Linked DNA regions of Homo sapiens: region 1 is linked to region 2. The links come from fine-mapping of genetic effects on gene expression. A gene starts in region 2. The other region holds a variant in brackets. All regions are shown on one strand. Distances are between the middles of the regions. Region 1 overlaps PTPRF (protein tyrosine phosphatase receptor type F). Region 2 holds the start of IPO13 (importin 13).

What was found. PIP is the estimated chance that this variant, and not a neighbour inherited with it, causes the effect. A credible set is the group of variants that fine-mapping cannot tell apart.
Region 1: its variant is the best candidate, but not a certain one, in a credible set for the expression of IPO13 in unexposed skin (GTEx, PIP 0.71).

The regions. Positions count from the first base shown.
Region 1 is chr1:43,558,482-43,563,844 of GRCh38, forward strand. All of the region lies in intron 5 of PTPRF (protein tyrosine phosphatase receptor type F), which reads left to right. Among named protein-coding and RNA genes, the nearest start is that of PTPRF, 30 kb to the left of the region's middle. RefSeq lists an enhancer at 2,185-2,762. The variant C/A (reference allele first, on the strand shown) is at 2,975.
Region 2 is chr1:43,943,940-43,949,302 of GRCh38, forward strand. IPO13 (importin 13) reads left to right here and starts at 3,011. Exons shown (of 20, transcript NM_014652.4): 1 at 3,011-3,745. The coding sequence starts at 3,662. It overlaps LOC101929609 (a long non-coding RNA gene), which reads right to left and starts at 2,660. Exons shown (of 2, transcript NR_188535.1): 1 at 2,542-2,660; 2 at 416-857. RefSeq lists a silencer at 2,807-3,056.

The DNA of each region.
Region 1 (5,363 bases), 390 kb before region 2:
CAGGACTGCATACGAGGTGGGGGTGCCCAGCACAAGCTGGCCGGGGTGAGCCTGTCCTGGCTGTGATGAGCGTGGGGCCCGCCGCCCAGCGTTCCTGTCTGAGTGGTAATTGAAGCCATTAGCGCGCCAGCCTCTCCCTCGCCGGGTAATGGCAGGAAAAGCTCTTCTCGCTCCGCACTCTTGAGGCGGCGGCTGAATCACTCCCCCTCCAACCCGCCCGCTGCCGCCACTGAGACAGGGAATCTGACATTTTCCCTCACCAGGGAGGGGGAGCCCTGGGGGAGGGGAGGGAGGCAGGCCTGGATTCCTGGCCTTTCCCTCCAGGAGGTTGAGGGGCAGTGAAGGTCTTGGAGCTCAGTCTGTAAGTCATGGATTCACCTGGGGCCGCAGATTTCAGGCCTGGAAGGACTGGCCGGGAAAGCCCAGGAGGCCGCCAGACATTCAGTGGTGTGGGGAGGGCACTGATGACTTTGGGTAGGTTCTGGGAGGGACAAGGAGGCGGGGAGAAGAAAGAAGCTGTGGAGCAGAGATGAGCTGTTTTGGACTTCTCCTGGGGGGCTTAGCTCCAAGGGTTCTGAGTACAGGTAGCATTACTTGTCTTGGGGTCATTGATAGGGCAGATAACGTGCACTGTTCGTGTGGTGTGGGTGCCCTGTGTGCCATGTTTAAGGCAGTGTTTGTGTGAAGTGTGTGGTGCAGTGTGTGCAGCAGGGGTGCTGCCTTGCAAGCTGTGCGCACAGAACGGGGTGTGCAGCGGTCAGCGCACACGTTACCATCAGGCAGTGGGGAAGGGGCAGTGTGTGCAGGAGGCACTGCATGCTGTATGGGCTGTGTATGCAGCGCGCAGTGTTTGTGTGCACGTGTGTGCGTCAGGCAGTGCGTGGTGTGGTGGTAAGCAGGTAGTGAGTACCTTATGGGCTATGTATACAGCAAGGCATATGCATCAGGCAGTGTGTGGGCAGTAGGCAGTGTGTGTGTGTGTTATCAGGCAGTATATGTGTGCGGTGTGCCGTGCGGCAGGCTACCTGTGTTTATATCGGGTAGTGTGTGTGTGTTTATGTGCAGCAAGGGTGTGCAGTAGGTGTGCAGTAGACTGTGTGCAGCAGGCGTGTGTGTGTGTACAGCAGGTGGTGTGCAGCAGGCAGTGTGTGTATGTATCAGGCGGGGTGTGGTGTGTGTTTATGTGCAGCATGCGGCGAGTACTTTGTGTGGTGTACAGCAGGTGGTGTGCGGCAGGCTGTGTGTATGTATCAGGCTCTGTGTGTGTGTGTGTGTGTTTGTACAGCAGGTGGTGTGCAGCAGGCAGTGTGTTTATCAGGCAGTGTGTGGTGTGTGTGTGCATCTTTATGTGCAGCGAGTAGTTTGTGGGGTGTGCAGCAGGTGGTGTGTAGCAGGCTATGTATGTATCAGGCTGTGTGTGTGTGTGCGCGCGTGTGTACAGCAGGTGGTGTGTAGCAAGCTGTGTGTATGTGTCAGGCAGTGTGTTTATGTGTGTGTGTCCAGCAGGTGGTGTGTAGCAGGCTGTGTATGTATCAGGCAGTGTGTGTGTGCGCAGCGGGTAGTTTGCAGGGGTGTACAGCAAGCAGTGTGCATGGTATGTACAGCAGATGGTGTGCAGCAGGCAGTGTGTGTGTGTGTGTGTGTACAATAGGTGGCATGCAGTGGGCAGTGCATTTGTGTGCATGCAGCAGGCTGTGGTGTGTACAGCAGGTGGTGTGCAGCAGACTGTGTGTTTGTATGCATCAGGCCGTGTGTGTGTGCAGCAGGCAGTGTGTGTGTGTGTACATGCGCACACGCAACAGGCACTATATTTGTGCAGCAGGCCATGTGTGTGGTGCATACAGCAGGTGGTGTGCAGCAGGCTGTGTGCTTGTACATGCAGCACATAGTGTATGTGTGTTGATGTCAGACAATGCATGTGCATGTGTGTGGAGTGCACAGCAGGTGATGTGCAGCAGGCTGTGTGTGTAGGTGTGCCTCGGGAGTGTGTGGGGGTGGGAGTGGACAGCAGGTGGTGTGTGCCTTACAACCTGTGTGGGCAGCAGCAGGAGTGGGCAGCAAGCAGCCCGAGCTGAAGTGTGGTGGGGTCAGTCTGGCACTGGCAGGAGGTCGGAGATGCTGTGTCTGGGCTCATTGTCTCTGGGACCCCGCAGGATCCCTGTTTGGAGCTGTTGGTCCGCCAGGAAGTTCGACAGAGTTGGATGTGGCCAGAATGGTCTGGCTGAGCTGTTCTCAGCACCTGTTGTGGTCGACCTCAGCAGCTCCTCTGTAGCCAGGCCAGGAGGTGGGGTGCACCAGATAGGGATCCTGCCCAGACCTGCCTGCAGGAGGTCTTGGGACCCTTTCCTCTCCCTCCCCTACCCCACCAAGCCCACAGTCCCTTCTGTCTGTTCCCACCTGGCCTCAGTGTCCAGCCAGCACCATACCACCTATGCCATGCGGGCCAGGGAATCCAGGTGTCTCGATGGAGTGCCTGGTGTTGCCAGCCTTGGAGCAGGCTCTGGGGAAGGGCTGTCCGGCACATGAAGTAGTGACCAGGGTGGGGGCTAATCAGTGCTGTACTGGGCTTGGACCTCTGGGTTCTGCAGGAGCTCTGACCCTGGCTGGCTTTGGGGCTCGTGGGATGACGAAGGACCTCTTGATATACCCCCTGACCACTCCACAACACAGTCCTTTTGGAAATAGCCCTAGAGACAGAGGGTCAATGATAGACATATGACCCTGTCCTGAGGTATCCTGGGCTGGGCTGGAACTGGAGCAGAGCTGGTGAGGGAGCTTACATTTGCAAGATGGGTACATGTGTGTTTTCTCAAGGAGTCATCTCTCCCTGCTCCACCTCCTTCCCTGCTCCAAACCTGTATATTCCTTCCACCCATGGTGGAATGACTTGGCCCAGGCCTGACTTTGATGGCTGGGGAGTTGGGTAAAGGGCTATTGCAGGCACAAGATGGCTTCCCAAGTGGCAAGATGTGAT[C/A]CCTTTCTATTGTCTACATGTGTGTCTGGGGTAACAGTCTGCTTTGGCAGAAGCTGGGGCTGTCAACTACCTGATTTGCAGCACAGAGGATGTAGAAGTGGCCCCAGAACCTGGAACCCAAGCCAGCTTCTACCTCTCCCTTAGCAACTGAGGCATGACCTGTATACCCCTGGTCCAGCTGCTGTAGTCCTCTGTGACCTGTCCTTACACCCCCATGACTGCAGTAGATTTCAGATCCACGCAGACATGAGGTTCTACAATCATTTCCTGGAGGTTCTAGGCCTCAGGGATGGGGATGGGAGAGGTATTAAGTAAGTTCTCCTGTTTTTATTAGCTGTGATCTGCCTTGAGGCGCCCAAGTGGATTCCCTTCCGAATGGGTGCTCCTGTTTAGTAGGTGGTACTCCTGCCTCTTCTGTTAGCCATGGACACTGGGCACTTCCCCTGTGCCCAGCCTGCCCCCCTGCCCCTATACTCACAGGTACTTGTAAGGCCCACTGTACGTGTTCCCTAGCCTCATGACCACGGTGGAGCCAATGGCTCTGGGAACAGGCTCACCAGGATGGCGGTTTAAATGCCCAAATGCCCTGTGCATGCACATTCTCCATCCTTGGTAAGGTGCTCCCTCCTACTGGTTTGCTTGCTGGGGAGAGAGGACTTGTTTTTTTTTTTGAGATGGTGTCTGACTCTGTGGCCCAGACTGGAGTGCGGTGGCACAATCTCAGCTCACTGCAACTTCCGCCTCCCGGGTTCAGATGATTCTCCTGCCTCAGCCTTCCGAGCAGCTGGGACTACAGGCACGCGCCACCACACCTGACTAATTTTTTGTATTTTTAGTAGAGATGGGGTTTCACCGTGTTAGCCAGGATGGTCTTGACCTCCTGACCTCATGATCCACCCGCCTCAGCCTCCCAAAGTGCTGGGATTATAGGCGTGAGCCACCGCGCCTGGCCCTGAGAGGACTTTTTTGAAACGGAGTCTCACTCTGCCACCCAGGCTGGAGTGCAGTGGCGTGATCTCGGCTCACTGCAACCTCTGCCTCCTGGGTTGAAGCAATTCTCATGTCTCAGCCTCCCGAATAGCTTGGGATTACAGGCATGGACCACCACGCCCGGCTAATTTTTTGTATTTTTAGTAGAGATGGGGTTTCACGAAACATGTTGGCCAGGCTGGTCTTGAACTCCTGACCTCAAGTGATTTGCCCGTTTTGGCCTCCCAGAGTGCTGGGATTACAGGCATGAGCCACTGCTCCTGGCCAAATTTTAATCAGAGCAATGACGTGATCAAACTTAAGCTTCAGAAAGGTCCGTGTGGGTGCATAGTGGGGGCTGGAAGGAAACCAATGACAGGTTGTTGCAGTCCAGGTGAGTGATGGCATTGGCGCAAATCTGGGTATGGGTAGGGGAAGATAGGGGAGCAGATCACTAGAAGGTTAGAAAGAGGCCGGGCACGGTGGATCATGCCTATAATCCCAGCGCTTTGGGAGGCCAAGGTGGGCAGATCACTTGAGGTCGGGAGTTCGAGACCAGCCTGGCCAACATAGTGAAACCCCGTCTCTACTAAAACTGTAAAAATTAGCTGGGTGTGGTGGCAGGAGCCTGTAATCCCAGCTACTCTGGAGGCTGAGGCATAAGAATTGCTTGAACCCGGGAGGCAGAGGTTGCAGTGATATGAGATGGCGCCACTGCACTTCAGCCTAGGCGACCAAGCGAGACTCCATCTCAAAAAAAAAAAAAAAAATAAGATTAGAAAGAGTAGAGGCCTGCCTGGCTACCTGTAGGATTGGGGAGGTGCAAGGCTCCAGGTTCCTGGCTCTGGGGCTGGGTAGGTGGGGGTGCCATTTCTAAGATTCATGTACTAGAGGAGGACCAGGTTTGAGGAGGCGAGTTGGTGAGTCCAGTTAGAAATCTGTTGAGCCAGGTGTGCGCAGGCATCCAGGGAGGTGTCAAAGAGGCCTCGTACACATTTGCCTGGCACTCCGGGGGACATCTGAAGTTGGAATCTTACAGGCTGAGAAATAGCAAATCTCAGGAGGCCAGAGCCAGGACAGAAGGAGCCCCAGGAACCGACTCTCCATGTTGGGAGGAGGTTCCTGAGAGACTGGAGGGAAACTGGGAGTGTGTGAGGTCAAGAAATGCCAAGAGAAAAAAGTGTGCGAAGGAGGAGGAGTGGTCAGCAGGGCGGGGTGCTGCCGAGAGGCCCGGCATGTGTCCTTAACAGTTAGTTCCGTGGAGCCATTGTTGGCTTTGGTGTTGGGAGACAGCAGGGCTGAGAAGTGAGAGGGAGGCTATCAGTGTCTGTAGTGACTGGAAGGGCCCGAACCTAGGGAGTGAATGGATGACAAGAGTCTCCCTGGAGTAGGACTGAGGTTGGGGAGCCACTGAAGGAGA
Region 2 (5,363 bases):
ACCTTGGTACTAAGAAAGGGGAATAATCTCCCCCTGAGAATTCTTTTTTTTCTTCTTCTTCTTTTTTTTTTTTTTTTGAGACAGAGTCTCGCTCTGTTGCCCAGGCTGGAGTGCAATGGCGCGATCTCAGCTCACTGCAACCTCCACCTTCCAGGTCCAAGAGATTCTCCTGCCTCAGCTTCCCAAGTAGCCGGGACTACAGGTGCCCGCCACCACACCAGGCTAACTTTTGTATTTTTAGTAGAGACAGGGTTTCACCGTGTTAGCCAGGCTGGTCTCGAACTCCTGACCTCGTGATCCACCCACCTCAGCCTCCCAAAGTGCTGGTGGCATGAGCCACTGCGCCCGGCCTCCCGCTGAGAATTCTTAACTGCAAGCAGGCAGTCGTCTGGTTTTGCAGACCAAATTCACATGATTTTGGTAGGCTGAAAAACTTCAAAGTGATCATTTAATTTGACATGAACATGGATTGGTAGTGGTTCCAGGTGACCAACAAAAGCTCCCTCTCCTCCTCTGCTGAGTTTTGGGATGTTCCCTCCTGAATCTGCAGACCTCTCCCAGGGTTGCCACAGGTTCTTGCCCCTATAGGTCTACACTTGTTCCTTAGAGAAGAAAGAGCCCTTCTGGCTCCCAAAGACTTATCTGCCACTTGGCTCTGAGCTATCCTGCACTAACATCCAAATCTCCTGGAGATCACCTTTGGTCTGGCCTCCGGAAATGCCCCCAACTCTCCCCAGGGCCTACTTCAGTCCATCTGTCCTAAATAGTGTTTGCAAAGGATGTTCAGGAGTCATTGCTGTGAGACTGGGCTTCTTTCTCTGCCAGATCCCTGGAACCTCCAGGGATGAGGAGGAGCCCTGGATGGGAAGCAGGAAGAAAACACATACTGACTAAGTTGTGGTCTCTGGGCTGAGCCCCCCACCCCTAAAACCCCTTAACTAAAATGAGTTTCAGAAGAAGCTAAGGTCTCATTGCTAGAAAGAGGCATAAACAGGTTTTGAACTCAGGACTAAGTCCAGAATTTGTGCATTTAAACCCCACTCCCAACACCATCTCCCCTGCCCACCACCACCTCCACCAGTGAAACCGCCAGCCAGCACCAGGCCCAAGGTATTTCACACCCTAGGCACAGGCCTGGAATCAGTTACTTTATTTTGGCTTTCTATTTCCTCCTTCCAAATGTCTCCTGCCTCTCTTTCTTCCTTCAATTTGTCTTTCATGTTGCAGATTTTTCTAAAATGCAAATGTAATCATCATTGCTCACTTGAAACCCCATCATGGTTTCATATTGCACTTAGGATAATGTCCAAACTCCTACAAGAATCTATTGCCACCAACTTGTCTTTCCAACCTCATCTCTGTTACTCATACCCTTCCCCTTCCCCACCCCACATATATTCTCTTAAAATGAATATAAATTACTTACTATTCTTTCTTTTCTTTTCTTTTTTTTTTTTAGACGGAGTCTCACTCTGTCGCCCAGGCTGGAGTGCAGTGGCGTGATCTCAGCTCACTGCAAGCTCCACCTCCCGTGTTCAAGCCATTCTCCTGCCTCAGCCTCCCGAATAGCTGGGACTACAGGTGCCTGCCACCATGCCCGGCTAATTTTTTGTATTTTTAGTAGAGACGGGGTTTCACCGTGTTAGCCAGGATGGTCTCGATCTCCTGACCTCGTGATCCGCCCGCCTCAGCCTCCCATAGTGCTGGGATTACAGGCGTGAGCCACCGCGCCCGGCCTACTTGCTATTCTTTATTGATGAAGACTTGCTGAATGACTTAGAGTCCTACTGGATTTTGCTTACCAGCTAAATGGGCCCCTCTCCTTCCCAGGCTCTCTATTCTTCAAGCTCAGATCAAGTTTCTCTTCTCAGGGAAGCCTTCATGGACCTTCTCAGGCCTCAGCAGCTGCTGCCAATGCCAGCTTCCAATGCCAGCTTCCTCCATTTGAACAAAACTACGGAGCTCTTTGCACTTTTAATTTTTTCCTCTTCCCTGCTAGGGTAGCTGGCAGGAGTTAATAAACAATAAAATACAACTGGAGGGGTGACAGGCAGGAACTACCGGGGCCTGTGGCAGACCAGATCTATGGCATGGTCTGCCACCCTGTCTGTGTGCCAGGGGCAAGATAAGCCTAACTTTCCCCAAGCTCGATTTCCTCATCTCATCTGAAAATGATGAATAAAAATATCCACCTCAGAGCTATTAAGAAAACTGAACCTAAGGTAAGCAAAGTCCTGCTCCTAGCACTTAAATGTAAGCTACTCTTACTCTAGTTACACATAAAGTTACTTCCAAAAACCTTACGAAATTCCCCGAGCACTGTCCATGGTATGTGGTTTCCCGGTTGCTTATTGGGTGGTCCCGAGAGCCTTCCTTTTTTCCTTCCTGAGGCGTGCCAAGTCCCCTCTCCTCTTCTCTGGGTGGTGCTGACGCCTTCTTCCCAGGCTGCACCTTTGCTGGGCCGGAGGATGCCCCCGGCAGCGGAGCGCCAGAGTGACCAGGCAACCTCCCCAGCCTCCACCCTCTAGCCCGGGCTCCCACCTCCGTCCTCCGGCCCCTCGAGTCACGTCGTCCTACTAAGGAGTTGGGCCGCAGCGCCCCGCGCCGGTCTGACCCGGAATGCCTGCTCGCCGCGGTAGGCCGAGGACAGGCGGGGCTCTGCAGGTCCCCAACCCACGTGCTCCCGGCCTCCTCCGCAGGGCGCCGCCTTCCGGCTAGGCGCAACACGGACTACATTTCCCAGGGTGAACAGCGGCGGGGCCTAGACTCGGCCGCGGCCTGGGGCGGCGAGCCGCTCCACCGCCTGCTCAGGGGAGTGCGAGCTGGCGCGAGGACAGGGCTAAGGACCCGGAATGAGTTTCCGCGCAGTTCCGCTGGGCCGTGCCGGCCTGTACCGGGCCGTGCCGAGCCAGAACTGGCAGGAGTGGGGGCCTGAGTTGGAGGTGCCGGGGACAGGCGCTCGGGGCAGCCCGCGCCTTGCCGAGGTCCCTGCCCCGTCCCGGCCGGCCTGGCTTGTCTTGTCAGTCACTGGGGCGGAGGCAGCGGCTGTAGCGGGGCTGTAGCCGGGCGTTGAGCACAGCGCGGGCCAGGCCGAACGGAAGGGACCTGCCACAGCCCCTCAACTCCACGGACTCTTCGCCCTAGACTAGCGGAGCTGCATCTCCGCGCTTCGTTGGACGCCTCCGTAACCACGAAGGGCTCTCTCTCTCCCGTGACCCTCCAGCCCCATGACCTGTTCATAGCAGCCGAGAGCTCACCCAGGCGGGGGTGTTGTGGGTACAGGCCATCGACCCTGTGACCCCTCAAGAGCCAGGGACTCGGTTTCCCCCGCAGGCCTCCCTCCCCTGTGACTCCCTCCACACAGATTCTGGGGACAGAGCTGTTACCTGCCACTAGGATCCCCGCCTGAGAGCTCCTCACTGACGGCTCCCTCCTCGGAGTCCCCTTCATTGGGTCTCCTAAGAGCACCAATTTTGGTCTCTGGCAAGCCTCCCACCCCCAAACGAGGTGGGGAGGCCTCGGCAGCCATGCCCGCCCTGGGCCCCCCCTCACCCCACCACTCCCTGGGCACCCAAGCCGGGGTCTAGCAGGGGGCCAGCAGCCAAGGGGCTGGGGCAGGAGACAGATCAGGGCCCACCTCCCTGCCAGGGAGGGAGCAAAGATGGAGCGGCGGGAGGAGCAGCCGGGGGCTGCAGGGGCTGGAGCAGCACCAGCCTTGGACTTCACTGTGGAGAACGTGGAGAAGGTATGAGGGCTCTGGGGTGGGCACTCCAGTGACAGAGCAGAAGTTCTGGGGACTGTCACTGATGGCAGAGCTCAGGCCTGGGCTGGGTGCCCGCTGGTATGGTGCCCCCAGAGCACCTGGCATTTGCTCTCTTTCTGGGCAGGCAGTATTGCAGTGCCCTAATGGGCTATTTTTGTCTTTCCTTACAGGCAGGTCCCCTGTGGATAGATACTCTAGGGTCTTGGGATGGTCCCTTCAGGGTGCTGTGACTTAGCCTTCCGTCCAGACTGGCTATGTTCCAGCTCCATGGGAACTGCATGAGCAGTGCAGTAGGAAACTGGGAACCCAGGAGACCTGCAGCTCAGTCTCCTGGAATTATACTGATGCCAAACCATCCTGGACCTGGTTTTGTTGAGCCAAGGGCTCAGAAAATAATCTGGAACTAAAACAATCTGGGTTGTTTTGACTCTTTGGAGAAGGGTCCTTCCTTTATTGGATGGAAGCCAGACCAGTCCTGAGCAGGCAGGCCTGGGGCTGTCTCCCTTTGTTTTGTGCTGAGTCCAAGGGTCCTGGCCCTGCTGGGAGCCTTACAGGGCTCCTCCCTACTCGCCTGCCCACATAGCTCCCTGCCATGGCCCTCCCAGGCTCCCCGACTGCCCAGCCCATCTTTCTGAACTGCCTCTTTGGTTCTTTTCTGTATCTGCTCCCTACAACTTGAAATGCAGGAATGCATGCACCCTGGGATGAATGGGGAGATGGGGCTCCCTTACTTGAAAGCAGGGAATGATGTTCACTTGTTATCCTTAACCCCCGTTTGCCATAACAAACAATGAGGATGCATCTCTTCTGCCTGCTTTGGCGTCCCTGAGGGGCCAAACAAGGGCCAATGGCCATAACTGGCTGTCAGGGGTACAAATAGAGCTAAGCTTACTTGGATGGAGCCTGCTTAGGGGTCAGGGTCCTGGCCATACTCTTCCGCCCCTTGGAGCAGGGCAGTGTTGGCATGGTGGCGCACTGTTCCATGTGCTATTGGGAGATAAATCTCACTGTTTTCTTACTTCATAAAGTCCCGTTGGAATTGAGACCCCGGGGATTCTGCTAGTGGAGAGCACTAAGCTAGGTGTTTGCCAGGGCTGCAGCTATGGCCAAGGCTTCTCTGGATCAATTGGTTGGACATGTGCCCTCTGAGGAGTGTTCTCACCCTCTCCTCCAGCATGTCTGCCCCAGGGCTGCCTGGCAAAAGTCTTAGTCCTGCTCTGATTTCACACTGGCTTTGGTGCCAGCATCTGGACTGACCTAGGGATGATCCTGGGGGAGCTGAAAGGAGCTGTTGGAGTTGATGGGAGCAGCTGTGCCTGGGAGGGTCAAGTCCCCTCAAGCTGTTCCATGCCCTTCTCAGACTTAGCTTCATCCCTGTGAAGCTGTTCCTTCCACCTGGGCCTTGCCCTCAAGTGCCTCCCCTTTGGGGAGATCAGCCTCCTCTTTTTTGCTTTCCTGTGGAGATTCCCTCTCTGAACCCATAATGTTTTGCTGTAAGGAGAAGAGGATATGGTAGAGCATGGGCAAGGTTCAGGCTCTCAAGATATCAGCAGGACCCCAGGCCCAGGAAACACTGCAGAGCGCTGAGCTCTCCCTGCTC